Linked DNA regions of Homo sapiens. The protein of the gene in region 1 purifies or fractionates together with the protein of each later gene. This does not show direct contact. Each region holds a gene or a part of one and is shown on either strand. Other genes may lie near its edges.

Region 1 (4,653 bases):
CCTACTTCAACCTCTGCCTCCCGGGTTCAGCGATTCTCGTGCCTCAGTCTCCTGGGTAGCTGGGATTACAGGCGCTCACCATCATGCCTTGCTAAGTTTTGTATTTTTAGTAGAGACGGGGTTTCACCATGTTGGCCAGGATGGTCGTGATCTCCTGACCTCGTGATCCGCCTGCCTCAGCCTCCCAAAGTGCTGGGATTACAGGCGTGAGCCACCACGCCCGGCCCTTTAATCATTTTTATGAACTGAAAACCAGTGTCACTTGTCAAAAATAAATATTGAACCCAAATATAAATATAATGAAAACAAAACGATGTTGTTAAAGCTTAACTACAGACATTTCCCAACTAAAGTATGAACCTGGATCCCGGGTCTTTCTTTCCAAAGACATTAAAGACAGACTAGTGCCAAGACCGTGTCCTTGAAGTCCAATTGATTGCTGTGCTGTGGCCATGTACAGCCACCCTACTTTGGCCAGTGGTACACTTGTGTATCTCAAGCTTTGGGAAACATTGAGATAAGCAAATCGTAAACCCTGAACAAATGCCCATGGGCCTTGGGAAGAACATATTTTAGGCATCATTTCTCTCTCTCTTTTTAAAAAAATTTTTTTTTTTTTTGAGACAGAGTCTCATTCTGTCGCCCAGGCTGGAGTGCAGTGGTGCGATCTCGGCTCACTGCAACCTCCGCCTCCTGGGTTCACGTGATTCTCCTGCCTCAGCCTCCTGAGTAGCTGGGATTATAGGCTCCTGCCACTATGTCTGGCTAATTTTTTGTATTTGTAGTACAGATGAGGTTTCACTATGTTGGCCAGACTGGTCTCGAACTCCTGACCTTGTGATCCACCCGCCTCAGCCTCCTAAAGAGCTGGGATTATAGGTGTGAGCCACTGCGCCCAGCCTTTGGGCATCATTTCTGATCAAAACTCTTGAAGTGCCTAACTGCAAGTTAGCAGGCCTGGAACTGAGATGGGAAAACTGTGAGAAAGTTCTCTGCTGTTTTCACTCATGTAGCAACAAAGACAAGCTGTTGGGTGATCAAGTCTTGATTAAATCATTCATTCATTCAACATTTATTGAGCGCCTACTGTGTGCTAGGCACCGTGCTAGGCGCAGAAATACAGAGATGCATAAGATACAGTCCATGCCCTTAAGGATTCACAGTCTAGAAGGGGAGACAAACATGTAAACAAGTAAAATACAGTGTGATAAGTGCCACAAGAGAAGCATTGACAAAGTGCAGAGGTAGCCTGGAGGGGAGGGGCACAGGGGTTGCCTTCCTGGAGGAGGGGGCCTTTGAGGGGATCGTGAGAGATGAACTTGCCAGGCAGACAAGGCAGGAGGAGCAGGGGAAGGCATTCCAGTCGGAAGAAACAGCATGAGCGAAGGCACAGAGGCATGAAACTGCATGTCTTGCTTGGTGAGTGGGGAACTCTAACTAGTCTGGTGGTATTGCTAAAGTGTACTAGAGGCTGTGGCTAGAGAAGGGGGCAGAGGCCAGATCATGAGGGGAAACTGAGGGCAGGGGCATCTTGGAGGGTCACCAGAGGTGAGCAGAGCCCGAGGGCAGGCTTTGACACAGGAAAAGAGGGCTCCTGGCTGACTCAAGGTACACCTGCCTGAGGACCACAGGGTTCCTCGCTGTGGCTCCAAAGGGATCTCGACCCAAGAGTAGAGGAGCAGCAGAGCTGGAGGTGAAGCAGAGGGGTCGGGCCAGGTCTGGGACCCAGAGCTGCCATGCACTCCCGCGCTCTCACAGACTTCTGATTTCCAACCTGCACGTCAGAGCCCCCTCCTGCCAGCCGGATGGGGGCCTGGATCCAGTGGGAAATCACATGGGAATATGGCTGGCAAACTGCAAAGGGCCAGATGAGTGTCAGGTTACAGAATAAATCTTTACTAACTCAAAGAAGAAAAGGGCTGCGGATAAAACAGGAAAGGTTAGATGGAGGAAGGCGGGCAGACGGGCCTAAGAACAAGGGCCAAAATGAGAATACAGCATCGGCCAAAGAGGACCGTGGCTGTCTCTCCCCTGGCAAGGAGGGGCCCTTTTGGCCCAGGGCAGAGGCAGAGGCCAGTGGGTACAACCAGGCCAGATGTGCAAGGAGAGCATGTGACCTGCAAGACTGTGGGGCTCCACACTCCAGACTCCAGTGTCTCCTTAGCCCAATGAGGAGGTTTCCTTGGCAATCAGGACCCTCCTTCTTCCAGGCTGTAGGGAGGCCACTGAGGCAGAGAGTGGCCAGCCAGCATTCCAGCCCTTCAGTGTTCTTAGGAATGGCTCTGTCTGAAAAATGGCTTTGCAGGGATGGGTGGGGCAGGGAGGCTGTGGGAAGAGGGCAGAGTCTCAGGACACCAGAGTCCAGCTGCCCATCTGAGTGGTGCTTTTGTAAGGCATCACACTTGAGGCCACTGTGAGGGGCTGAGCTTCTTTCCCAACCATGGATGGGGGAAGGGCAAGATGGACCCTGGGTTCCAGGGCTACAGTGAGATGAGGCCTCCTGACGGAGAAGCTAACAGCAGCCCCCATGTCCTTGCTGCCGTCCCAGGAGTAGGGAAGGAGGAGGGGACCCTCCCAGTTGGTAGGGTCTGGAGATGTCCCGAGACCCCTCCTTTCCTCTTGCCGTTGATGAGGCAGCCTCGCGCTGCGGGGTTCCCAGCCTCCAACAGGCCCCCTTCTTTTGGCCTCACAGTCTCATCGCCTGATCCCTCCCCTCCCCTGAGCAGTGTGGGGGGATGATGCCCGCTTGGGTGCCGATGGAGGTGGTGGTGTTAGCGATGAGAAGGATGATGAGGTGTTGGTGGTGGCGGCCTCCCCATGCGGGGAGTGGGCTGGGCTGGGGGCGCTGGGGGCATCACTTGCTCTTGTGCATATCCTTCAGCCGGCGGAGCTCTTCCAGGAGCTGGGCCCGGGAGTAGTCATCATCCCCAGTGGGGCCCGGCCCCGGCCCCAGAGCCTCCTGTAGCGCCAGGCAGTGGGTTCTCAGGAACGGGTTGTAGGAGCGCTCCTCTCCCAGGGTAGATGGGCACTGTGGGTGAGAGGAACCAGGTTTGGTGGAGAGAAGCTGGGAAATGGACCCAAGACAGAGAAGCCTGACCCGACCCCTGCCCCATCCTGGAGTTCAGGAGTTCTGACTTGAGGGCCCATGGGCCAAAGAGGTCAGAGTTTTGGGGAGGTGCTCGCAGGCCTGGGGTCAGCATGGATGGGTTCCCGTTGGGGCTGAGTGCCTGCCCACACAGCTCCTCCTGGACCCCGAGTCCCTCACCGTGCCCTTGCGCTCCAGCCGCTGCCGCTGCACCCACTGCATCTTCCTCTCCCGGGCCAGGTTCTCGGGCTCCACCACACCTGCAAAGCCCAGGTTCTCCTCTGCATACTCATGACCTACCGACAGCCATGAGGGTGAGACACAGAGCAGAGAGAGATTGGTGGTACAGTCAGAACAGTCTTCCCTGCCCCAGGTCCAGGCTGATGGGCACCTGACAACTAGGGATGAGGTCAGCACTTCCAGGAAAACCCCAACTGCCAGGAGCTGCTTCTCTAACTGTGGGCACAAGTCAGCCATGGGTGAAAAGGTGGCAATAGTTCCAGGGGAAAAAACCACTAGACCTGGAGCTGGCAGGCCTGCATCTAGCCCTGACTCCACCAAGCCTAGCATGTGACCTCGGTCTAGTCATGGCCCCTCTCTGAGGCACAATTTTCTCATTTGGCAAGTGGAGAGAACAATGATGCCACCAGACACAGATGTACCTGCTGTGTTCCTGGTGCCTGGAACAGAGCCTGGTATGTGTTAGGTGCACATAAAGTACTTGATGAATGAATGAATGAATGAATATATGTTCTGAGGATTAACAGATATCTGTGAATGTTTTTATGCACCACAAGGCAATGGTTACATGCAGAGTGGATTTACTGACTTCTCCCCAGATAAGCAAAGGCTATTTTCTGTTCTGGGCTAAGGCTATGAACAATTAGACATCTCTCTGGAATGCCCTGGGGCCTGCAAGGCTCCCAAGAGGCTGAAGGCTGACTGGCAGGGGAAGGTAGTGTGAGAAGCAGAGGTGGTACGGAGCCAGCACTCCAGGAAGAAGGGAGGCCAGAACTCTGTCCCTACCCCTAGAGGTGGAGCTGTGTCGCTTCTGGGCCAGGAACTGGGCTGGCCTGCTTTCTAGGGGAGTGAGGGGGTGGGAAGGCCCTTGTCCCAGGCTGAGCGTGGGGCTGGAGGATGGGGAGTAGTAAGGGGGTGTCTCACCAGGCCACAGAAGGGTGTCATCCCCTAGCCCCAGCACAGTGTCCAGTGAGCTCAGCATGGTCTCTGCATTGCCCTCAAAGGTCCGCCCTGGGTGGGGGTTGGAGGGTATGTCACAAGGTGCCAGGATAACACAATATGGCATAAGGCACACCCAGACAGGTGGGAACCAGCTTGTAATGCTCTGGCTGGCCGTCAGCCCTGACTGTGCACTTTCCAGACCCACCCCAGGCATCTATTCCCTCCTCACTGGGAACTGGGCCCAACTGGTCACCCCCTGACCAAGCCCATCCGAGGCCTCCGTTGCACACAGTGACACCTGAAGGGAGGGGCTGTGGAATCTTCGGGCTGCAGGCCCCAGGCTTGGTAGACGCAGGGCTGCTCTTTCCCACGGAACACTTCTTCGC
Region 2 (4,681 bases), on another chromosome or scaffold:
CTTACCGCCCAGACTGGAGTGCAGTGGCGTGATCTGAGTTCACTGCAACTTCCGCCTCCCATGTTCAAGCGATTGTCCTGCCTCAGCTTCCCAGTAGCTGGGACTACAGGGGCATGCCACCACATCCGGCTAATTTTTGTATTTTTAGTAGAGACAGGGTTTTGCCATGTTGGCCAGGCTGGTCTCGAACTCCTGGGCTCTAGTGATCTGCCCATCTTGGCCTTCTAAAGTGCTGGGATTACAAGTGTGAGCTACTGCGCCCAGCCCCCAACCTTTTTTTTTTTTTTTAAGAAAGGTTTTGCACTGTTGCTTAGGATGGAATCATGATTCACTACAGCCTCCATCTCCTAGGCTCAAGCCATCCTCCTGCCTTAGCCTCCCAAGTAGCTGAAACTACAGGTGTGCGCCACCAAGCTCAGCTAATTTTTTTTATGTTTAGCAGAGACAAAGCTTCCCTATGTTGCCCAGGCTGGTCTCAAACTCCAGAGCTCAAGTGATTCACCCGTCTTGGACTCCCGAAGTGCTGGGATTACAGGTGTGAGCCACTATGCCTGAACAGTGTATATTTCTTTCTTTTTTTTAACAGAGCTCACTCTGTTGCCCAGGCTAAAGTGCACTGGTGCAATCTTGGCTTATTGCAACCTTCACCTCCTGGATCCAAGTGATTCTCATGCCTCAGCCTCCTGAGTAGCTGGGATTACAGGTATGGGCCATCACACCCGGCTAATTATTTTTTTTTTGAGGTGGAGTCTTGCTCTGTTGCCCAGGCTGGAGTGCAGTGGTGGAATCTTGGCTCACTGCAACCTCCACCTCCCAGGTTTGAGTTTCTCCTGCCTCAGCCTCCCAAGTAGCTGGGATTGCAGGTGCATGCTACCACACCCAGCTAGTTTTTGTATTTTTGTAGAGATGGGATTTCACTATGTTGGCCAGGCTGGTCTCAAATTCCTCACCTTAAGTGATCTGCCCACCTCGACCTCCCAAAATGCTTGGCCTCCAGTGTGTATTTCTAACGGGCTATTCTGGGTGATTTTCAAATAAGTATATTTTAAAGCAGACTTTTTTTCCCCTATGGTCATACAGAAAAAGCTCTCCATTATCCTGTGCCATGAATAATACTTGCATGCTCTATTGAGTTATTATGTAAATAGTTAAAACTGTATGCTGTATTTATGAGTTGTTTTCCCTTCTTTTGTGTCGTTAGAGTGGTAAAGTTGAATGGGAGAAATCCAGACCCAATTATCCATGCCTCAGAATCTAAGAGATTTTTAGGATGGCACATCTTCAGTGTCATCTCATCTTCTACCGTGTTTAAGGATGATTCTGCATTCAACAGCTGCTTTAGAGCTTGCTTAGTAAAACAGAAAATCACACACAAAACAACGAGAAAATCACCAGCATTTATTTACTCAACAAATATTTATGAAGAGTCGACTATATACTAGGTCCTGTGCTAAATATCCTGGATATTGTTTATAGGTCAGAAACTGTGGGGAAGAATAAACAGAATGAGGAACTTTTTTCTCCTTGAAAATAATTATATTTTATAAATAATTGAGGCAGAGAGAACTCTAATACTTTCTTTTTTGGAAGAGTCGTTCTCCAAGGAGACATGCTTGGGCCAATCATTTAGCTGAAATGATCACTAAACATACATATATACCTTAAAATTCATGAGCAAGGACCATAATAAAGCGAGGTGTTGTATATGGTATACATTTCTGTTTTCCCACCATATACACAATTTGGGTTATTTTACTTGGTGCCATGGGCTAGGAACTCTTAGGGCTGGGAAACAATCTTGGTTTCCCAACAGTCTATATCATATAGGTGAAAACTGTAAAATACATCACAGTGCAGATGAAATCTAACACTACTAGCTCATTTTGTGCTGCTGTGGAAGCAGTGAATTAAAATTAAGTCCTGTACTGGGGATTGGGCCTTTTGTCAGGGCAACTGAGATCAACTGTACAGAAATTTTCAAATTTCCCTTCTCATCAGGCAAACGGATGGACAATGAAGCCGGTTCAGAGGCCCAGCCGAGACAATGATGCACAGGGAAACTCCCTCGAGCCCCAGCTGTCACCTAGTACTTCGAAGACACTGAGAGGTAATGCTGCAAAGTCGTGCTGTCATTTTTTTAATGTCTCACATATATTCCAAGCAATATGCATTAGCAAACAAATATCCACGAATAGTATCATCTCATTTTCTACTAATAACCCTTTATTTGGTATCTTAAAAAAGATTTTGTAAGACACAAAACTTTCCATTAAAAAGTTGTTTATTTAAAAATACCTTCTCCCAATTCTGATTCCATATCAAATTAAATCAAGAAGTGATGTTACAGCAATAACTCATCAAAGTCATGAGTAGGGAGGATGGCAATGACCCCATTAGCTCATTAGTATAATCTAGTAAGTGAAATAGAAATTCAACTCATTTACTTCTTCACAAAAGGCAAACATAATTGATATACTTCATATCAAAAAACTAGTTTATAAAGCTTGTCTTCATATTTCAGTTTAAGGTTCAACTGATATAAAATGCCTTAAAAGAACATCCAAGCAATGCTTTGGATTTTCTTTCTTTGCAAAATTCAAGGAAAACATGATTGGTTGAAGTTTCTTCACTGCTGGCGAATTAGTTAAGAGCTACCTGAGATTCCTTCGCACTTCCACTCTTCCACTCTTTGAGTTTCCAGTGATTAAAATATGCCAGAGACATAATTTAGAGAGCGCTAGAAATGCCACACAGATCTCATCACTTAAAAAAGAGTTTCTGGCCAGGCACGGTGGCTCATGCCTGTAATCCCAGCACTTTGGGAGGCCAGGGCAGGCGGATCACTTGAGGTCAGGAATTTGAGACCAGCCTGGCCAACACGGTGAAACCCGTCTCTACTGAAAAAAAAAAACAAACCAAAAAACCAAAAACAAAAACAAGGTGTGGTGGTGGGTGCCTGTAATTCCAGCTACTCAGGAGGCTGAGGCATGAGAATCGCTTGAACCTGGAATGGCAGAGGTTGCAGTAAGCCAAGATCGCAGCACTGTAATACAGCCTGGGCAGCAGTGAGACTCCATCTCAAAAAAGAAAAAAACAACAAAACAAAACAAACAAACAAAACACACACACAAAAAAACCAGCAACAGAGTTTCTGACAGGTTTTGAAGTTTTTTTTTTTTTTTTTTTTTGGAGACAGGGTCTCCCTCTGTCACCCAGGCTGGAGTGCAGTAGCGTGATCTCAGCTCACTGCAACCTCTGTCTCCCAGGTTCAACCGACTCTCCTCCCTCAGCCTCCCGAGTAGCTGGGATCACAGGCATGTGCCACCATGCTTATGCATGCGGTTTCACCATGTTGGCCAGGCTGGCCTCAAACTCCTGACCTCAAGTGATCCACCCGCCTCGGTCTCCCAAGGTGCTGGGATTATAGGCGTGAGCCACCATGCCTGGCCAGGTTTTGAAGTTTTTACAGAATGTACAGAATGTAATCATTAAAAAATGACTTTCAGAAACATATACATTCAAAGAAAACCTTTTAGTATTCTAAGCATTGAATACTTTGGGGGAAGAACTGGTTTCTTTTTTGGATTGTTTAAGAAGTCAGTCTTTTCTCAACAGTTTCTTGATAAGCAATAAATCTTCGCAAATTCATTTTCACATTGTCAAGAACACACAGCTGATCTGTGCTATAGTTACCTCTCCCTTCTTTACGTATCTGCAAACAAAAAACAAAAAATCATATATGACTTGGTAGATATGATTAATTCATTTAAATAAAGTATTTAATTTAGGGTGTATTTAACCATTTGCTGAAGCAGATAGCTGTAAGAATTTGGAAAAAATGTTTTTACTTCCAAGGTAAATGGAACTCGGTAAGTAAAGAATAAACTGAGAATGTGCATTATTAAAAATGATAGTTACAAAGGTGACTGAATGGCAGGTGGTAGGAGTTATATAAACTATAGAAAGGAATTATGTAAACCATGAATTGGGAAAATAACCCCTAACCTCTGAAAGGTCTGCTGTTCAGATTGATTTTCCTAGTTAGTATGCATTGCTATGGTAATAATACTTAATTGTTTTTCTTCTCTCAAAGGTATAAAGCCTTAATGAAATTCCTTTGTTAGGCTGGGTGCATACTCATGCCTGTAATCCCAGCAGTTTGGGAGGCCGAGGCAGGAGGTTTGCTTGAGTCCAGGAGTTCAAGACTAGCCTGGGCAACACAGTGAGACCCCACCTTAAAAAAAAAATTCCTTTGTTAGCCAGAGGTTAGTCTGTAGTGTTGTGGTTTTTTTGTTTTTGGAACAGGGTCTCTCTCTGTCGCCCAGGCCAGAGAGCCGTGCTGCAGTCATGGGTCACTGCAGCCTCGACCTCCCGGACGCAAGTGATCCTCCTGCCTCTGCCACCACAGTAGCTAGGACTACAAGCAGCGCACTACCATGCTGGAGTAATTTTTTTAAATTTTTAGTAGAGGTGGGGTCTCACTATGTTGCCCAGGCTGGTCTTGAACTCGTGGGCTCAAGTGATCCTACCACCTTGGCCTTCCATAGTGCTGGGATTACTGGTGTGAGCCACCATGCCCAGCGCTGGTTTTGTTTGTTTGCTTGTTTTTTGTTTTTAATAGAGATGGGTCTTGCTTCATCGCCTAGGCTGGAGTGCAGTGCTGCAATCCACTGAGCTCACT
Region 3 (4,378 bases), on another chromosome or scaffold:
ACCAGAGGCTCAGGTGTTAAGGATGCATTTTCCATGTTTTCCAACAGCACACAAACTCCTTACAAAAAACAAGCTTATCTAGATGGTCCCACGAGCTGGTCATCTTCAGTTTACAATATGCTGTGGCTGCTGGCCCATGTCACTGGGCTTTCCTATAAAAGCTTTCTTTTCTTGGAACTGCTGTCCTCCTGCTCCAGTGTCCTCTTGTCCCACCTAGAGTTCCTCCTGGTGTGATGGGTCTCGGAACCACACTTCTCCTGCTCCCCTTCACTGAAAGCCCTGGCCTCTCTCCTGTGACAGAGCTCCTCTTCCGGGTCATCACATTTGCTCTGACACGTGGAAGCCTCGGGACTGGCAGCTGGAGGTTCGCCCCGCACGGGAGGTTTGTGGCTGCTCAGAGCAGCCACTACAGCAGCGGGCTGCTGTATATGGCTCAGGTCCTGGTGAACGACAGGGAAGCCCGGCTCGCCCGTAGGAGGTGTTGCTCCAGGATGCTGGGGGCTCGAGGGTTGTGGATCCCAAAGGAATATTCCTCCTTTGACCTCAATGCCCATCCTCTTCAGCAGTCGTGGGTCCTGAAGTTGGTCATGAACAGGAGGTCTTTCAGGGTCCTTTGAAGTAACAGTAAGAGTAATTTCCTTGGAGTCAGAGGGTGTGTGGTATAGAGAAGCAGCAACAGATGTCTTGGCAAATCCACTGTCTAGCTTGCTGCTGGGCAAACCACCCTGGGGTCTGGACCCCTCTGGGGCTATGGTAGGAGGGTGAGTGAGACTTCTCTGCAGCACAGGCTTGAGTTTCAGAATCTTCACTGCATCATGTCTATAGTTTTTGTCACAGGTCTTAATAATGGCACCACGCTTCTGAGCATCCTGAATCAGCTGATTCCAATGCTGGTTTTCCTTGAAACAATGAGAAGGGAGAAATAATTACACCCCAAAGAGACACTGCTTGGGAAGCATAGAGTTCCAGCTTTCATTTCTGAACAAATAATACATATTATTGTATGAACATATTCTCAAGATTCATTACTCGTCAGACAAGGATGAAAGGAAAAAATAAATTCAAATAAAAAATGATAAAGTCCCATTCCTAAAAATAAGACCTGGTCACAACCTATAATGGAGAACTTCAACTTTTGTTTTTTTTTTTTTTTTTTTTGAGACAGAGACTCACTCTGTTGCCAGGCTGGAGTGCAGTGGCGCGATCTTGGCTCACTGCAACCTCCACCTCCCGGGTTCACGCCATTCTCCTGCCTCAACCTCCCGAGTAGCTGGGACTACAGGCACCCGCCACCACGCCCGGCTAATTTTTTGTATTTTTAGTAGAGACGGGGTTTCATCATGTTAGCCAAGATGGTCTCGATCTCCTGACCTCATGATCCGCCCGCCTCAGCTCCCAAAGTGCTGGGATTACAGGCAGGAGCCACCGTGCCTGGCCGAACTTCAGCCATTTTTATCAGTGCATTCAACTGCAACGCAGGTCTGCACTAGTCACTAGGAGCATCATGTTGCTATTTATATTTCAATAAATTAAAATAAAAAATTCTGTTCCTAAATTGCATCAGCCACATTTCAAGTACACAGCGGTCACACACGACTAATGGCTATTGTACTGAGCAGTGCAGACACAAAACATTTCCGTTATCACAGAAAGGTCCTTTGGACATTGGTGATCTAGAGTACTGCCTACACCTCTTGGCAGGGCTAACGTTCTGAAACAGGAAGGTCTGGTTTCAGAAAGCAAACTTCTGAGTGCATGTGACTATTCTAGAAAAAGGCCCAAGGCTTTCACTGGATTTCTAAAGGCCTCCCAAACCCCGAATGGCTAAAACATCTTCATCCACCGAGATCTCAAGATATCATCTCACTTTCTGCCTGTTTCCTACAGGAGCTTAAGATATTAAATCCCATCGGGAAAGTTGCCAAACACATGCACCTCTCCTCTCTTCCCGAGTTTCTTCAGAGGAGGCTGCTGCTTTACAACCACTAGAATTCGGGTCTCTTTAGAAAGAAGAAAGAAAAGAAGAAAAAGGATAGCTACCCTCTCATGGGGGCTCCTGTACTGTTCATAAAGGTATGTTAGGGAAGCAGTGAGGCTGCACAGTATTTACTTGCTGTGTGACCTTGGTCAAGTCACTTGACCTCTCTGAGCCTGTTTCCTCATCTGTAAAATAGGAGTAATATTTTATTTAATGGATTCTAAAGTGCACGTTGCTTTCACATTTTAGCATTTCTGACCTTGGGGAGCCTCTTGGCCATGTACCTATCCTTGGAAATTACATGATGAGGCAATTATAACCCTTAGACTTTTAGTCAATAAACCATTTAAAAATAATGCCTGAAAACCTTCTACAGACATTTTCTGATAAGACAAGATAACACCAGCATTAAAACTTATGCACTGGGCCAGGTGCAGTGGCTCATGCCTGTAATCCTAACACTTTGGGAGGCTGAGGCGGGCGGATCACCTGAGGTCAGAGGTTCAAGACGAGCCTGGGCAACATGGTGAAACCCCGTCTCTACTAAAAATACAAAAATTAGCCAAGTGTAGTGGTGCACAGCTATAATCCCAGGTACTTGAGATGCTAAGGCATGAGAATCGCCTGAACCCAGGAGGCGGACGTTGCAGTGAGCTGAGATTGTGCCACTGCACTCCAGCCTGGGCAACAAGGTGAGGCTCTGTCTCAAAAAAAAACCCCCAAAAAAACCTTATACACTGGAGATAAAGGGTTCTAAGAAATCCTGGAGACAATGGTGTAACTCTTAGCAAATGCTAAATTGCCAACCTTATTATTGCACTTGGGATGAATGACAACACTGATGACTATGGATTGGGAAGTGATTCATTCGTGCTAAATTCTGAAAGTGAAATATTTTTAGGAATATCTTAACCTATTATTTTACTTGTATTTTCTATGTATGGATAAGAATATGGTAAAAATCTGTCTAAAGTCTTAAGAGTCCTTTCAATAAATATGAAAGTTCTAAGTGAAAATAAGGCACTGTGTCATAGTCTAATAATGGTACATAAAATAGTGGTGTATATTATAATGAATGGTTTCTTGAATTTGATGAACTATGGTAATAAGCTGACTTCACAGTAGTTTTTCAAGGTTTGGAGAAAGTCATGTGACCAGAATAAAATGCTTGGCCCGGTGGCTGGCATACTGAAGACAGGTCTGTGGAGGGAGCGCCAGGCTCTGGGGGCTCAGTTCTCTTTCTCACTCAGATCTCTAGAGATCCTTAGCCTGTGGCTCAAACACATATGTGAAGCAGATGGCCTTGCAATTTTTGCTAAGTTCACTACACCTAAACTTGGTGTTTAATCCATTCCTAAGATCACAGAAACAGTTCTGAGCAGGCACTATTAGCCTTGGTTTCTCAGAGGAAATCAAACGCTTTAATGATTGATCCCATTCCCATAAGGGGAACTAGGCTAAAAACTTAGAAACAAAAGCAAATGAATCCCCAAAACAACAAAGAAAAAGCCCAAGGACAAAAAAAGTTAGGAAGCCCAGCTGACATGTCGGGAAGTTTCAGATTCTCGTCTGTCTCTTTTTGTAGCACTGCCTTCCTAGAGTGAAGACAATGTCGGTGCCATTAGCTGGAGGTCAGTGGTCTGCACAGTTGTGCAAGTGTGACCCAGGGGCTCCCAAACACTGTCTAAACGGAATGTGAAAAAGGGTTACAGAATAACCTTGCAAACCCTACTTCCCATGTCCTCCTTGGGCTGCCCTGCCTCCTGCACCCCACCCTTCACAATCATGATGCGCCTCATCCATCCAGAGTGCACTGCCAAGACACATCAACACCATGAGGTGCCAACTTAAGGGAGGATGAAAAACAGTAGTGCCCACAAAGCCTCCTTTAATCAAGGCATCACTAAAAGATGTATCTCTAGCAACATTTCATTTACTTGTCAGGTTTAAACATGATCAAAATCTGTGATATTAAATATATTTGTCTTGTTTTGCTCAACTGTACAAATAAGTGTTAACAGGCTATTCAATTGATAAGAGATCACGTTTTAACACTCAGATGCTTATGGTCACAGGAAAAGCAATTTTTAAAAATCCAAACCTACATTTTGAGATAACTATAGATTTACAGGAAGTTGCAAGGAAAGTACTGAGAGGTTGCATGCACCCTTCACATGGGTTCCCCAAATAGTGATAAAAATCAACTTTTTAGGCCGAGGTGGGATGACTTTAGCCCAGGAGTTTGAGACCAGCCTGGACAACATGGTAAGACCCTTTCTCTACTAAAAGTACAAAAATTAGGTACATGCGCCTATAGTCTCAGCTACTCAGGAGGCTGAGGTGGGAGAACGGCTTAAATCCAGGAGGCGGAGGCTGCAGTGAGCTGTGATTGTGCCACTG
Region 4 (4,378 bases), on another chromosome or scaffold:
CTATATAATATTTTATCCATTAAGATTCTAAGAACTGCTCTGACACTCTTAACCAAAGTTTAGGGCTGGCTTAGAACTACTACATTGACTCACTGTGCATAAGAGGGTGGGGTTGGCAAACATAAAGTACAAGACATTGATACCAAATCTTTTAACAGTATAATAGACTGACTAGAAACCCTTTACATATAGCCCCTCCCATACAGGTGGAACACTGGACATAGGTTACATCAAGGAGGAAACTCTCTTTGGCCTTCTTCAAATACCAAACAGTTTCATTTGCCATATGTTGTCTTTGAACACAGTAGAGCTCCTTGTACTATTTAAAAAAAACCATTCATCTTCCCCTCCGCACCCTGCCCCCACCCCGGAACAAGAACACTATTTGTGTATCTAAGTAAAAGAAAACAGGAATTTTGCTTTGATTGTTTCCTACACTCAGTGACAACATATTGCCCTCTTCTCATTGGTTACCATATGGAAAGAAACCATAATTCTGCTAAAGTTAGTTCAAATTAGACTTAAGTTTCTTTCAGTCCAACTGAGTTTCCTGTTTGGGAATCCAATCTTCAAACAACATTGGTTAAAACTGATACAGTGACTTGTGTTTGTCCAATTTGGTCTTTTTCTGTAGCACTTGTTCTTGCTCTATCACGTTAAATCTTTTGTGGTTTCATTTGAAATGAAGACAGTGGTCTTAGAAGATAACTTTCAACCAGTTGTTCCTCCAATGTATACTAAAAATTAAGCTTTTCATGGTCAAATGTGTATCACCAGGGAATTTCCATGTCTATTGAATGTATAGTTGTTTAAAACTAATGATAAGCCACAGGATTGGCTTTGGATTATTTTTCATGCAATTACTCATTTTCCTGTAGTGACTTGGATATGCCATTTGCCAAGTGGACCAAGGAGCAGGTTTGCAATTGGCTGATGGAACAGGGCTTGGGCTCGTACCTGAATTCTGGCAAGCACTGGATTGCATCTGGCCAAACGCTTTTGCAGGCTTCTCAACAAGATCTAGAGAAGGTGACTGCTTCTCTGTTTTGTTCACACAATGGATACTGAGAAGAAAACAGTATGAATGTAGGGTTGTTTTATAGTCCAGAAAGGGCCATGAGTGAAGCCAGTAAAAACTCTGTAAACAAAAGTTTGGGTTTTCAATTGCTTCATGCTTCTTTTTTCTGGTGGTCTTGGGAGGACCTGGTCTTGATGATTCCTTATGGAACACTTAAGCCATTGGGCATTTTAATGAAAAAGAATTACATAAGCATAATTCAGTTCATATTTCTCGAAATCATTGTTTGGCTTTATCATTGGCCTGTTTTTCTCAGTGTAAGATATGCAATTAACTTCACTTTGCAAAAGAAAAAAAAAAAGCACCCTACAATTTGTGTCTAATTATTTAACATTTCTTCCAAATTATTTAATATTTTGTACAAAATAAGAGTCAAATTCTTTTTATGCATGCTACAGTTCCTAGCTTACAAAGAAAATGAGTCACTAGGGAATGCCTAACACACCCCTAAGATAATTGTGGTGGTCTTGGCTTTTCAGGGACCTTTTGTTCAACAACACTTTACTAGCCCAAGTTGGGATTGTAATTCAGTATTGAATTGGGTCTTTAATGCTAGCTTCATTTTGGAGAAATTTGCATCCTTTGCCAGTGGCACCCAGCCTATACAGATAGAATTATAAAGTCAATGTTTATTGTTTCAGGAACTTGGAATCAAGCATTCACTTCATCGAAAGAAACTCCAGCTAGCACTCCAAGCCCTGGGATCTGAAGAAGAAACCAATCATGGGAAGCTGGATTTCAACTGGGTCACTAGTAAGAAGTTTTTATTCTAACAAAATGAAATAATTATATACATAGTTGCTTTTTCTTTTTAATCACAAGAACAGATGTTTTGTGGCATGGTAGCAACACTGGCCTCTCTCTTTTAGGATGGTTGGATGACATTGGCCTCCCTCAATATAAGACCCAGTTTGATGAAGGACGGGTTGATGGTCGAATGCTACATTACATGACTGTTGTAAGTGACTCACTCCTGGGGTTTGGGGGAGGAAAACTTTTTTTCTCTGAAAAACACAGGAATTGAGTAAGCCAAACACAGTGTTTTCAGTGATTCCACCAGAGTTTGAAGCTGTTGCTTGAACTTGAGGAGAGTGGCAGGCATATTTCCCATGAGGCTGAAGTTGTAGCATTTGGTGATTGTGATTGAACAGGCTTGGGATAATTTGAAACCCCAATGTAAGCTAAGTGAAGCCTAATTTAAACTAAGCTCTCCAGAAGGTTGATTTTATATGTAATACATTCAACAAAGTAAACACTGAAGTGTACACTTTGAATGGGTACATTTTATGGTATGCAAATTATATCTCATAAAGATTTTTTTTGTATTATTTCTTTTGAGATGGAGTCTCGCTCTGTCACCCAGGCTGGAGTGCAATGACGTGATCTCAGCTCACTGTAACCTCTACCTCCCAGGTTCAAGCCATTCTCCTGCCTCAGCCTCCCGAGTAGCTGGGATTACAGGCTCACGCCACCATACCCAGCTAATTTTTTTGTATTTTTAGTAGAGACGGAGTTTCGCCATGTTGGCCAGCTGGTCTCAAACTCCTGACCTCAAGCGACCTGCCTGCCTCGGCCTCCCAAAGTGCTGGAATTATAGGCATGAGTCAACACGCCCAGCCTAAAGATATTTTTTAAATAGAATGTAGAATTTTTAAGCCCAAGCTATCTCTAAGTTATGGGTTTCTATGTGCAATGACCATTTGGAAGAGGCCACCCTTTTGACCTGACATCTTCAAGGACTTGTCTTCTCCTTTCCACTCTGGACAACTGTTACCTGAAACCCTATCACCCGTCTCACTTCAGCCTAGTTCTGCTACAGCAGGAGTTACTGGGGTTAAAGGAGGAGGGAGGAAGGCTAGACTTCTACTCTGGTTCCTTCATTATTGTACATTTCTAGCCCTCCAGCCAATGTGTAGGACTATTCCCTGCTTTACAGCAGTGAGAAAGATGGATTCCAGGAGAACTTTGTTTTAGGTTCCATACCACTATTAATGTTCTACTTAAAATTCTCTTTATTTATTTATTTTTATTTTTATTTTTATTTTATTTTATTTTATTTTGAGACGGAGTCTCGCTCTGTCGCCCAGGCTGGAGTGCAGTGGTGCGATCTCGGCTCACTGCAACCTCCCTCTCCTGGGTTCATGCCATTCTCCTGCCTCAGCCTCCCAAGTAGCTGGGACTACAGGCACCTGCCACCATGCCTGGCTAATTTTTTGTATTTTTAATAGAGACGGGGTTTCACCATGTTAGCCAGGATGGTCTCGATCTCCTGACCTCGTTATCCACCCACCTTGGCCTCCCAAAGTGCTGGGATTACAGGCGTGAGCCACCGAGCCTGGCCTTGTTCTACTTAAAATTCTTTTATTTATTTATTTATTTTGGAGACAGAGTCTCACTCTGCTGCCCAGGCTGGAGCGCAGTGGCACAATCTTGGCTCATGGCAACCTCCACCTCCCAGGTTCAAGTGATTCTCCTGCCTCAGCCACCCGAGTAGCTGGGATTACAGGTGCACACCACTGCTCCTGGCTAATTTTTGTGTTTTTGGTGGAGATGGAGTTTCGCCATGTTGGCCAGGCTGGTCTGGAACTTCTGACCTCAGGAGATCCACCTGCCTCGGCCTCCCAAAGTGCTGGGATTACAGGCGTGAGCCACTGTGCCCGGCCTAAAATTCTTTTATTTAAACAGCTTTTTGTGAAGTAGGCTATAGACCTAACTACCCTAAGTATAATCTTTTTCAAGTAAGTAGCAAGTTTTAAACAGCCAACTTAAGTAGGCATTTCTCAATGTCAAAAAAATTTGGAGTTCAGTTCATGGATTTTTCTTCTCTGTCATTGAACCCAAGCCCCTTACCTTGATGAGCACATCACATAAACCTGCGTGAAATAATACTAATATGTGTAGTATGTTGCACATTTGCTATGTGTCAAACATCCTTTTAAGCATTTTGCTCATATTAATACTGGATTCTCAATAACCCTTTTAGTTAATATTACTAATATTATTATAGTGTGTATAATATATATTAAAAAGTTTTTAAAACTTTTTATTTTAAGATAATTTTAGATTTACAGAGGAGTTGCCAAAGCTAGAATTCTGTATACCTTTCACTCAGCTTCCTCTAACGTTAACATCTTACGTAATCATGATTACATTCATCAAAATTAAGAAATTAACGTAGATGTTAATACAATCAACTAAACTGAAGACTATTCACATTTCACCAGTTTTTCCAGTAAGGTCCTCCTTCTGTTCCAGGATCTAATCTAGGACACTACATTAAAACACACATTTTGTGACTTA
Region 5 (3,500 bases), on another chromosome or scaffold:
TCCTGCCTCAGCCTCCCCAGTAGCTGGGACTATAGGTGCACACCACCATGCCTGGCTAATTTTTTGTATTTTTGGTAGAGACAGGGTTTCAACATGTTGTCTAGGCTGGTCTCAAACTCATGGGCTCAAGTGATCCACCCACCTTGGCCTCCCAAAGTGCTGGGATTATAGGCATGAGGCGCTGTACCTGGCCTCAAGTAGTTCTTTATAGCAGTGTGAGAACAGACTAATACAACCACTAAAGATTATTATACTTTTATCAAGCAGAGTCCCATGTAAAAAAAAAAAATTATCATACTTTAATACACAATATAAAAAAATAAAAGCACAATGAATCCCCCAGGAAATCTTCCTATGTATCTACACTTAGTATATTGCATCTAAATGATTAATTTTATTATCCTCCCTAGTGCTTAGAAACTAGGATTGGGCATAAATTAATAATGATGATGGTAGTTAACATTTATTAAGGACTTAGTATGTCTCAGGCACTTTTCCGAGGCCTTAATATATACTGACTTAACTCCCATAACAACAGTATTAAGTACTATTATCTCCAACTTACTTGTGAGGAAATAGAGGCAAAAATATATTAAGTAAATTGCCACAAAGACATAGCTACGAAGCGGCAGAGCTGGAGTTCATACCTACCTAGTGTATTTCAAGTCCATGCTCTTCACTGCCATCAGTTCTGCTTCTATTTTTGAACTATTACATGAGCTATTTCTTAAAAGTCTACCCTTTTAGATTTTATCAAGTCCATGCTGTGTGTAAGATAACACTGGGAAGTATATAAAGATTAGTAAGGGCTTGGCCAGGTGTGGTTGCTCACACCTGTAATCCCAGCACTTTGGGAGGCCGAGATGGATGGATCACTTGAGGTCAGGAGTTCGAGACCAGCTTGGCCAAAATGGTGAAACCCCATCTACACTAAAAAGACAAAAATTAGCCAGGCATGGTGGCAGGCACCTGTAATCCCAGCTACTCAGGAGGCTGAGGCAGGAGAATCCTTTGAACCCAGGAAGCAGAGGTTGCAGCTGCGATCACACCACTGCACTCCAGCACGGGCGACAGAGCAAAACTCCGTCTCAAAAAAAAAAAAAAAAAAAAAAAAAAAAAGATTAGGCACAGTGGCTCACACCTGTAATCCCAGCACTTTGGGAGGCCAAGGCAGGAAGATCACTTGAGCCCAGGAGTTCAAGACCAGCCTTGGCAACACAGTGAGAGCCAGTCTCTACAAAATAATTTAAAAATTAACTGGATATGGTGGCACACGCCTGTACTCCAAGGATGAGGTGGGAGGACTGCATGAGCCGGGGAGACCAAGGTTGCAGTGACCCATGATCACGCCACCACACTCCAGCCTGGGAAACAGAGCGAGAGCCTGTCTAAAAAAAAAAAAAAAAAGAATATGATATCGTTCCCAGCTCTCAAGAAGCTTATATTCTAACCAAAGAAAAGTCTTCAAGGAAGAGGTAGTATTTAAGATAGGCCTTGAATGATGAGTAAGATTTATTTTATTTATTTATTTATTTAGAGATGGAGTCTCGCTCTGTTGCCCAGGCTGGAGTGCAGTGGTCCAATCTCGGCTCACGCAGCCTCTGCCTCCCGGATTCAAGCAATTCGAAGAATACGATTTAAAACCAAGAAAGAAATATTTACGAAAACATTCTACACACCTTTCATATTAAACACAATGTGACCCCAATGAGCACAATCCCCACTATGAGTTTTTACTTACAATTTCCTCATTTAAGAAAGAAAAAGGCAGCTTCTGACTGCATTACCTGCATGGAGAGTTGGGCATTCTGCATGAGAGTCAAACAGTATTTGATCCAGCACCTTGCTATTTCCCCCTTTCTTTGATGATAAAGCTCTGGCACTTCTCCTTCAGCTTCAGGAGCTAAAATATACATGTGATTTGTTTAAGTTAATGGTCACAACTGTAATTTTCATTGGGTACTGTAATTTTTTTAATATCACTTTTTCCTGACTATAAAAGTAACAGATCTTTACTGAAGCAGGGGGCTTGGGGAAAAGGGAAGAAAGATCCCCCCCCAAATCCTACTACCCAGAAGCACTCACTATTATTTTTGCATATTTCTTTCTCGCACCACAAACACTTTACTCATATCATTATCAACTCTTAGCTTCATTTTTAAGTACACCATTATATACAATTAAATAGATATTCTATTATTTAACCATTCTTCTAATTCTAACCTGGAATTTGTTGTTTCCAATTCTTTACTATCACAAAAACGTCTATGTCACACAACAGATGGTTGTGGAGAACCTGGTGCTAAACTATTCAGATGACCTGCTTCTGGGTCAGAGTGTCATACATAGCAGAGCAGCTTTCTTGCTGTAATCTACAAAGTCAGCTGTCAACACAAAGCTTTGTAAAGTTTATACACATACACACATTTTTTTTAAACTTGAAACATGAGTATAATTGTGCAAAAATCTGTCTGGATTTTGGATTTCTTCCTTAGGGCAGATTCCTAGAAGTGGAATTTACTGAGTAAAAGAGTTTACACAATTTTAAATAATTCACAACATACAGCCAAATTATTTTCAACAAATATGCCAACCAACAATATATGAGAATGCTCAATAAGAACATTTTGAAAACACTGGTCACTGTCATTTTTTCAGCTATTATGAAGAGTAAAAACAAAATAATATCTCACGATATTACTTTAAATAAAGTGAATTATTAAATAATATCTCAGCAATTTAGTTTTTATTCATTTTTTGAGACAAGTGCCTCTTAGACTTCAACTAATCTATAATTAATGTAGTTAATATATTAGGGGAGAAAGCAACTATTTACTTTGATAATGTACATTCCTTTAGCTCTTAAGAGTCTCTGCATTTTTCAGATCCACAATTAGAATGTCCATTTGTAAGGAAGACATGATGTTTCAAAATCTAAAACATCGTAAGAAGGTTGGAAACTGTTCAACAGTGAGCAATAGAATCAAACTATTTTTAAAAATAAACTATTTTTAAAGAAAATGATGAACTTATTAAAAAACCTGTTAAATGACTCAAAGACACATGTTAACTGTGATTTTCTAAGACTAAAGGAAACACTATACTTAAAAAGATGGGTATTTGGCAACATCGCTTATGCATGTAGTATTCCAACCAAAAATATATCATCTGAATCATGGCATAAGGAAACATCACACAAACCCCAGCTGGCAGTAATTCTATGAAATAACTGGCCTATATTCTTAATATTAAGTGATGAAAGGGAAAGAAAGGCTGAGGAACAATTCCAGACGAAAAATGCCTGAAGAGATGTGACAACTGAATGCATTATGCAATCTTGAACTGTATAATCCAGTACTGGCAAACAAATGCTAGAAGGAATATTATGGCAACAACTGATGAAATAGAAATATGCAGTGTAGATAAAAGAATTGTATCAATGTTACTTTTTTTTTTTTAATTTCTTTAAAAACATAGAGATGGGGTCTCACTATGTTGAT
Region 6 (4,378 bases), on another chromosome or scaffold:
TACTATTACAAAGTTTAAAACCTCTATGCTAATACTACACAAATGCATACTCTCATTTAATATTTTTGGAAATTTTGTTTTCAAAGGAACATGTTATGTTATACTTACAAGCACCATCTTCATCATAGTTACTAAGATCAGCATGGACTGTTCTGCTGAATTCTAATACATTGTACCATTGATCTTTGTTCATAACACGATACTTTGATTGCTGCAAAAATGATTTAAATATTTGTATTTAAATATTTAAACAAACATCATTTACTCAATTTAGTAAACTAAGTTTTAACTGTTTTTGTGATTTGGTTTTTTCTAAAACATTTACTATTTTTTTAATTATTTGTGTTTCTAAGAGATTCCTCATGGGCATTTACATATTAACATAATCTATTTTTTACTTTTTTTTTCATTTTTGAGGAATAATAAGAGCACTGAGTACTAACAGTAAGGATAAAACTAACTTTTTCATATGTATATACTTGTGTTACCACCAATGAGATCAAGATATATAACATTTCCTACATCCAGTATGTTCTATTGTGCTGCTTCCTAGTAAATCATTTCTTTGCTCAAGATTTACTGTTTAGCCACATTTTGAGTTTGGCATCTTTGGAAACAAGTGAAAGAGTATAGGCTTCGATTTAAATCCCACCCTTGCCACTTAATTGAGTGATTTTGGGAAAGTTACTTAAGAATAGAAACCACCTCCTCATTTGTTAAATGGGGATAGAATTTAATTCAAAATGGTATTATAAAGATTTTTAAAAATATATGCCAAACAACCTGCACATAACAAGTGTCTGAAAATATTTAGTTCTTCTCAGCTCCCCATAGAGCTGAATATTTTTACATTCAGTTAAATTTATTTTTGCCCAAAACTACTAATAGGAAGAAAATAGATACCATCCATCAAAAATAATTTATAGGACTTACAGATTGAATCATGCGTAAAACTCATTCATGTAAGACCTTTTCATATCATTGTCTCTTTTTTTTTTTTTCTGAGACAGAGTCTCGTTCTGTCACCCAGGCTGGAGTGTAGTGGTGCAATCTCAGCTTACTGCAACCTCCACCTCCCTGGTTCAAGCAATTCTCGTGCCTCAGCCTCCCGAGTAGCTGGGACTACAGGCACAAACCACCACACCCAGCTAATTTTTTGTGTGTATTTTTAGTAGAGACGGGGATTCACCATGTTGGCCAGGCTGGTCTCGAACTCCTGGCCTCAAGTGATCTGCCTGCCTTGGCCTCCCAACGTGCTGGGATTACAGGCGTGTGCCACCACGCCCAGCTGATATCACTGTCTTGTATCACAACTTTTACTACTCTGGGAAAAGGGAAGCAGCTATAAGCAATGTGCTTTATGAGAAATTATTTCCAAAGGAAAAAGCATCTGTATTCAAGATATGGTGAGAACTATACCAATAACCCTAGAATTACAAAGGCACAAAAACAGATTTAAAAAAAAAAAACTAGACAAAGCAATGGAAAAAAAGAATAGCATCTTCTTAGAATCACTGCCTATAGTAGTTGCTATGATAAACCTTCTAAAAGAACACGTCATCATTTCAGCTTACATTTTTTTAGTAACCAGCATATTTAAGTATACTATTATAGCCATTCTCATATTTGTGGCCATAAAATATTAATAGCTTTATTCTGTTTCTTTAGATTGAGCCTAAGTAGAAAAGGAAAGTTTTATTACTAAATTGGTTCTCTTATGTACATTTCAGCTTAAGACCCTGTGTAACAAAAGAAGAAAATCAGATTTAGAAGCTTAAAGGTTTGTGTACTAGCATTAACTCTCTTATGAAAACCCCGAGAAACTAATTCTGCAAGACAAATGTCTGTGATACAATGTATTTCTTGGAGGTTTCTTTTATTTGGGGGACTGGGGGGGTAGGATTGAAAATATCTTAGGTACAAAATATATTAATAAACATGAACTTCTATCTAAAAATAGCAACTGATATGTACATATTTTAGAATTTTTTCTCTAAAGTTTTTTTAAAGCATACTATTAAAAATCTACTTGTTCCTCAAAAGTATAACTTTCAGATTAAGTTTTAAAATAATATTTTCAAAATTCGAAAAAACATACGTACCTCCAGGTACTGGTAAAATACTGAAAACAGTGGCCATGTCCTCCCAAGCAGAAGAGCTAACATAGATTTAGCAGTATCAATATCAAGGCTTCTCTGATCTTTATCCTAAAATATAAGTGAAAAAGTTTTCCTAAGTGTGGTCTCAAGATGAAAAGCTATTAAAACAACAAAACAAGAAAATTGCACCTACCCTTGCAAAATCAAAGGCATATCTGTAGATATTCTTAAATGACGAAATATCATTCAACTGTGAGCGCAAAAAGTCAAATTTGTTTTGTAACTTTTCTGTGCAGTCACACCTTAAATAAAAGAAATATCAAACAAATTACATAATCAAGAAAATCAAATAAAAGTATCACTGGGGGTTAGACGTAATGCATTAAGAAAAAAGTGAGCGCATTTATGAAGTTAATTTAGTTTTAAAATTCTGAGTCACAAATTTAGAGTAATAAATTTCTTGCCCTGCATCTACCAATGCAATAAAAAAAGAAAAAAGGGGAAAAAAGAAAACCTGGGAATCAAAGAAAGTTCACTCCAATTACTTTGCTTAAAAACAAACAAACAGCTCATTCAAAAATTCCAAATAAAATCGAAGTTAAAAAGAGATGTATTAAAACATGTTTTATCACATATACAGCTAAAAATGGCAGAGCAAATGAAACTAATCACGCCTTTGTCACACATTTCTTTAGAAAGTTCGTAGGTAACAGTTTGGTGAAAGACATTAGTCATGAGTAGTTTTAAAAGTTTAGGATATAACACAGTGCAAATTAATACATTAAGTGGTCCAGTCATAAATCAAGATCCCTATATTTTTGTGAACAAAAAGTCAAAGTCAATCAGTAGAAGCACCTAACTTCAAATAAGTTATATATGCAAAAGCATGCAAACAACAAGTCATACGTGTTATTTTTAAAGACAAGACATTAAATATAAGCAGCTAAATATATGGAAGGCTCAAAAATCTTAACTGACTTTGTCTCAGTGGGTTGATAAATTCCACTGTTTAGCAAGAAGCAAGGCAGTCAAGGCCTTTCACAATTTGGCACAAATCTCTAGTTTCATCTCCTGCCACTTCCTGATAACCTTACCATGCTCTAATTATATCACTTACCATTCCCAAATGCCACTGCCATACTTCAGCACCCATTATTTCCACTTGAAATCTCAAACATGCTGATAAAAATATTATTCATCAAGACCTAACTCACATTTTGCCACCTCTGAGAGACCATCTGACTCCCTTTAATCAAATTAATTGTGCCATCTACTGTGGTCCACAGTATTCCACTCAAAACTGAATTTTAGTTATTCAACATGCTCTCCAGCCACCTGGCATTCTCAGATTTAACTAAGACTATACTAAATCAATAATGCAAAGGCCTATAATGTGTAGTAACATAATTTCATTAATGTGTAAATATTTTGGACAATTTTCTAATATTAATTAAACCTTGCATTTCTAGAATAAGTCAAATTTGGTCATGTTATCTGTTTTATACATTGCTGGATTTTGGGGTTGTTTTGCTAGGTTCCTAAGTGAGACTAGCTTTTAAGTTTCATTCTTACTCTCCTTGCTAGTTTTTTTAACAAGATTGTAGTACATAAGACTCAGAAAATGAAAAGAGAATTGCTACTTTTCCCCCCCGTTTTTTGAAAAAGCTTATGTAACCCTGGAATTAGCATCTGTCCAAACTCAGGTGAGTATTGAGGGAAGGAAAACTTTTAACTAATAAACCAACATTTTTAATGGCCATAGGGCCATTCAGATTTTCTATTTCTTTTTGAATGTTTTGGTCCCATACTTTTCTCATAACTGATTATTTTACATATAAGTTTATTTAAATATGATTAAAATTTATAACATTTTCTAATTTGCATTAGCATTATCTTCATCCCTTTTTTGTTGTTTTTCTTGACCAATCTTACCAGAATTTAATTAATTTAATATAGTATTTAAGGCTATAATTTCCCTCTTAATACAACTTTAGCTGCAACCACAAGTTTTGATAAGTATTGTTTGTAGAACTATCATTCGATCCAGCAATCCCATTATTGGATATATACCCAGAGGAATATAAATCATCCTACCATAAAGATATGCAGGTGAATGTTCATTGCAGCACTATTCACAATAGCAAAGACATGGAATCAACCTAAATGCCCACCAGTGATGGACTGGACAAAGAAAATACATATACACCATGGTATATGTACACTATGGAATACTAAGCAGCCATAAAAAAAGAACACGATCATACATTTTGCGGGAACAT
Region 7 (3,500 bases), on another chromosome or scaffold:
AAATTGAACTTTGTGTTGTATCTTAAAAAAAAAATCAATGACATGCCAATGTCACCTTCATGCTACAAGTTTTTAAAAAGAGCCAAAAACATTATGAAACGGTATTAACAAAGGAGGATGACTGTTACTGGAATGTTATTCATAGAAATACCATACCATTTCTAAAGTTGAAAATCTATACATTTTCCTCTAAGGTTCTACATATTTCTAAATTAATAACAAATAATTGTTCGGACCTAACTTGCATTAAAATATTCCCTTAATGCTTTTCCAAATAAGTTCTAATTCTGTAATAAGACAAATACTACATGAGTTAAAAACATCCTCAATAAATAGGTAAAAATCCAAATAGTGTCACTGAACATGCTACCTGGAAATACTTAAAGGCAGATATATAGGATACATGCATCACAAAGAAGACATGGAGAAAATGGATATTTAAAAATATAACCTTTGAAAGAAAAAAACGGTATTATCATTGTTGGCCTGAGGTAAAAATGAAGTAACAATGAGCCAATTTATTTTTAATGCAAAATAAATCTCCAAGAAATGAAACTGTCTGAAGCATTGCCTTTAACTTCGGAAGAGGCACTAGAACTCTCCCAGTCAACCACCACTGCGCTGGTTCCTGCAGTTTGGAGGCCCTCCCAAGTGCCCTCTGGTGGCCTTCAAGACAAGACAAAATGAAGTGGCTGTTGCTGATATTTGGAGTCTTCTTAAGTCACTGGCAAGATTTAAATTATTTCCAGAAAATAACAATCTTTATGGATGATTTTTTTTTTTTAAGTTCACAGGAGTCCTGACTGGGAAAACCCTGAGCTACAAAAGCAAGATTTTACTGAAATTAATTATTTCACAGACAGACTGGAGATCACAGGTCACTGAAAAGTCATTTCACTGAACAGAGCTAAGGATCTAGGATAAATTGTAATAACAGCAAAGTGAAATTTTTTTAAAGAAGAGCAAAACTCAAAGTCAAAACATCACATACTCTTATGCCTTTGGAAAAGAAATAATAAAAATAGAAATTTGCCTCCATCAAAATTATAATACTATTTCTGAATTCAGTGAAAAGACAGTGTAATTAAAGGAATTAATTAAATATATCAAATATCTACTCTATTATAAACATACCAAGAAAATGAAACAAAAAATTAATAAAACAAATTATTTGGCTCACCGAAAAGTAAATCCCTCCAGTTACACACACACACACACACACACACACACACACACACACACAAACTTACCATTTCATCTTTTTCCCATTTATCTGTGTTGCTTTTGTCTTGATTTACTACATAACCAGGAGGAAGCCAATTCACAGGGGGATCAAATATTGACACCACCATGCGGCTGGGTAGTCCCTTCTTTTTTCCAAGGCGATACAGATTACAGTTGCTGACCTTTAGCAGAAAATATTAGGATACTTATCCATAAATGATCACTGCTGGAATTCATTCAAGGCATATTAACATATCCTCAGTTAAATGTTCTTAAAATTAATCAATTAATTATATGTCATCAATTAATTATAAGGGCTCTACAGTTTTTCTACCCATTCATGTTATAAAAAGAATATTAAATTCCCACATATTCTATGCTTTTTTGGTGTAAATATTTCTGAATATAAGATGCAGAGCAGAAAAAATAATGTATATAACTATGCATACTCCTTATGAATGACTGAGAAGAAACACTTCAGACAATATCAAAGCCTTGAAAATACAACCTGATGATATAAAATGCAAACTGCTAACTGGAATTACCAAAGTAGAAAAGAACCCATAGAAAAAGTCAAGATGTCACAATATTTTCAATGAAATGGGGGGAGGATGCCATCAGCTCTAGCTGCAAAGTGAAAACTGGCACCGAACAAAACTGAAACAATGTTATATTCCTAGAATCGAAGCCACAAACGGGATTTCAACTGTAATGCTCTCTCAAATATTATTCCTTTGTTTTACAGCCATTTCAAGACACTTTTATTCAACTTAAAAAAAATGAACCAAAAGGTTTCTGTTTATTCACATTAATGGAACAGCTTTACTATCTTACCCTCTACTCCGGTCTGTTTTTCCTAATGCCTCTATCTCCTTCTTAATTTCTCACATCATTGCATTTCTGTCAAGTTAGTACTTGGAAACTAGGGTCTAGAATTGTCAATCCCATTTTCATTTTCATAAAGCTCGGTTCCTTATTATTAAGTACTTCATTAGCCCTCTTCCCATGTAACTCAACTATTGTTTAATAGACACCCCCCATATGAGAGGCACTCGATTGGGCAACCCTGAGGGAACGATGGCAGCAGGACAGAGGGGCAGTCCTCGTGACACACAGGCTAGCAGGGAAAAGGAGGGTACGTGTGACCACTATAGCCAAAAGTACTCTCCCTCTCTGCCTGAAACGTAGCAGGCTGAAATAAATGCTAGCTTCCCTTTCCAAGCTAAGAGAACAAAGCATCACAAGCGCCAAGAAGAGGATAAAGTACAACGTGGACTCATGGGAGGGAAATCACATTCCAAGTTGACAGAAATGGTGGGCAGGATGAAGAAAGAGCTACGTAAGGTCTCAAATATGGGGCAAAATTCTGGACAGGTAGAGATGGAGGCAAGCCCTCTGCAGAAGGAAGGACAGAGCAAGGGCCCCAAGGCTGGGGGTCTGAGCGTGGAGTCTGTCCAATGAGCTGCAAGGGGCTTCCACCTGCTTAGGATCCAAAACGCATCAGGGCTGAAAGGGCCTGAACAGCAGGCTGAGGGAGTGATCATTCTTTCTGCAGAAATAAGGAGTAGAAGGTTTCTGAGCAGACAAATGGACGAGTTTTGTAATAGAAAGTCACCTCTGTCTTGTCTAACAGAGTATCCTATCCTATTGCCTATGCCACACTTGTCCAAGCCTCTGATACTTTCTTCCTGCAACCACCTCTTGGAAATCTCATCCATTCTCAGAGCTTCCGTATGGCGACTACTCTACAAAACCGTATCTGAATCCTACAGCCTCAATTATCTGAACATTTCCACTTCATATTCCATGAGGTCTAAAATCTCAACTCTAACATGGACTTCCCACATTTCTCCCTACCTCCCTGCTACTGCCACTGCCCCCAAGTTGCCAGTTTACGTGGTTGTTATGACTGCGCCTCCAGTCCACCTCAAGATCATCCTGGGAGGCCTTGGACACACTCCTGACTCTCCCAGATGAACAGTTAGGTGACCTGACAGGAGCCCATTCGACTCTCTAAGTGTGAGTCCCCTCATCTGCAAAACAGGGATGTGTTGTCTCTTTCCCAGAGGCTTAGAGAAGAGTGAATGAGTGAGCACTTGGGAAATGCTTGGTGTGCTGCCTGGTGTGATGGTTCTATCCGGAGCAGTTAGTGTGATGGGGAAGGGGAAGGTCTCCAAAGCCAGGCTGTCTGGATTCGACCCAAGCTCTGCCACTTACTTGCCAAGTGACCTTGGGCAAGCTAACTTCTCCAGCCTATTCTCACCTATAAAATGGGG

Evidence for each region.
Region 2: the proteins of PNKD (region 1) and HEATR3 purify together in Homo sapiens (affinity purification with mass spectrometry; 2 studies listed by BioGRID and IntAct, with this or other methods). This does not show direct contact.
Region 3: the proteins of PNKD (region 1) and SETX purify together in Homo sapiens (affinity purification with mass spectrometry; 2 studies listed by BioGRID and IntAct, with this or other methods). This does not show direct contact.
Region 4: the proteins of PNKD (region 1) and PPFIBP1 purify together in Homo sapiens (affinity purification with mass spectrometry; 2 studies listed by BioGRID and IntAct, with this or other methods). This does not show direct contact.
Region 5: the proteins of PNKD (region 1) and KIFBP purify together in Homo sapiens (affinity purification with mass spectrometry; 2 studies listed by BioGRID and IntAct, with this or other methods). This does not show direct contact.
Region 6: the proteins of PNKD (region 1) and DCUN1D5 purify together in Homo sapiens (affinity purification with mass spectrometry; 2 studies listed by BioGRID and IntAct, with this or other methods). This does not show direct contact.
Region 7: the proteins of PNKD (region 1) and DICER1 purify together in Homo sapiens (affinity purification with mass spectrometry; 2 studies listed by BioGRID and IntAct, with this or other methods). This does not show direct contact.

The regions. Positions count from the first base shown.
Region 1 is NC_000002.12:218,343,183-218,347,835, reverse strand, and holds the end of PNKD (probable thioesterase PNKD isoform 1 precursor), read right to left. Parts: intron 4,337-4,653; coding exon 4,250-4,336; intron 3,382-4,249; coding exon 3,266-3,381; intron 3,029-3,265; coding exon 2,855-3,028; 3' UTR 1,043-2,854; downstream 1-1,042. UniProt on the Homo sapiens protein: Probable thioesterase that may play a role in cellular detoxification processes; it likely acts on a yet-unknown alpha-hydroxythioester substrate.
Region 2 is NC_000016.10:50,103,970-50,108,650, reverse strand, and holds the end of HEATR3 (HEAT repeat-containing protein 3), read right to left. Parts: intron 3,713-4,681; coding exon 3,590-3,712; 3' UTR 1,379-3,589; downstream 1-1,378. UniProt on the Homo sapiens protein: Plays a role in ribosome biogenesis and in nuclear import of the 60S ribosomal protein L5/large ribosomal subunit protein uL18 (RPL5). Required for proper erythrocyte maturation.
Region 3 is NC_000009.12:132,264,087-132,268,464, forward strand, and holds part of SETX (probable helicase senataxin), read right to left. Parts: intron 900-4,378; coding exon 153-899; 3' UTR 1-152. UniProt on the Homo sapiens protein: Probable RNA/DNA helicase involved in diverse aspects of RNA metabolism and genomic integrity.
Region 4 is NC_000012.12:27,680,668-27,685,045, forward strand, and holds part of PPFIBP1 (liprin-beta-1), read left to right. Parts: intron 1-878; coding exon 879-1,029; intron 1,030-1,719; coding exon 1,720-1,831; intron 1,832-1,947; coding exon 1,948-2,036; intron 2,037-4,378. UniProt on the Homo sapiens protein: May regulate the disassembly of focal adhesions. Did not bind receptor-like tyrosine phosphatases type 2A.
Region 5 is NC_000010.11:69,009,303-69,012,802, reverse strand, and holds part of KIFBP (KIF-binding protein), read right to left. Parts: intron 1,904-3,500; coding exon 1,788-1,903; intron 1-1,787. UniProt on the Homo sapiens protein: Activator of KIF1B plus-end-directed microtubule motor activity. Required for organization of axonal microtubules, and axonal outgrowth and maintenance during peripheral and central nervous system development.
Region 6 is NC_000011.10:103,064,167-103,068,544, forward strand, and holds part of DCUN1D5 (DCN1-like protein 5), read right to left. Parts: intron 2,402-4,378; coding exon 2,293-2,401; intron 2,208-2,292; coding exon 2,103-2,207; intron 212-2,102; coding exon 109-211; intron 1-108. UniProt on the Homo sapiens protein: Contributes to the neddylation of all cullins by transferring NEDD8 from N-terminally acetylated NEDD8-conjugating E2s enzyme to different cullin C-terminal domain-RBX complexes which is necessary for the activation of cullin-RING E3 ubiquitin ligases (CRLs).
Region 7 is NC_000014.9:95,098,530-95,102,029, forward strand, and holds part of DICER1 (endoribonuclease Dicer), read right to left. Parts: intron 1,407-3,500; coding exon 1,251-1,406; intron 1-1,250. UniProt on the Homo sapiens protein: Double-stranded RNA (dsRNA) endoribonuclease playing a central role in short dsRNA-mediated post-transcriptional gene silencing.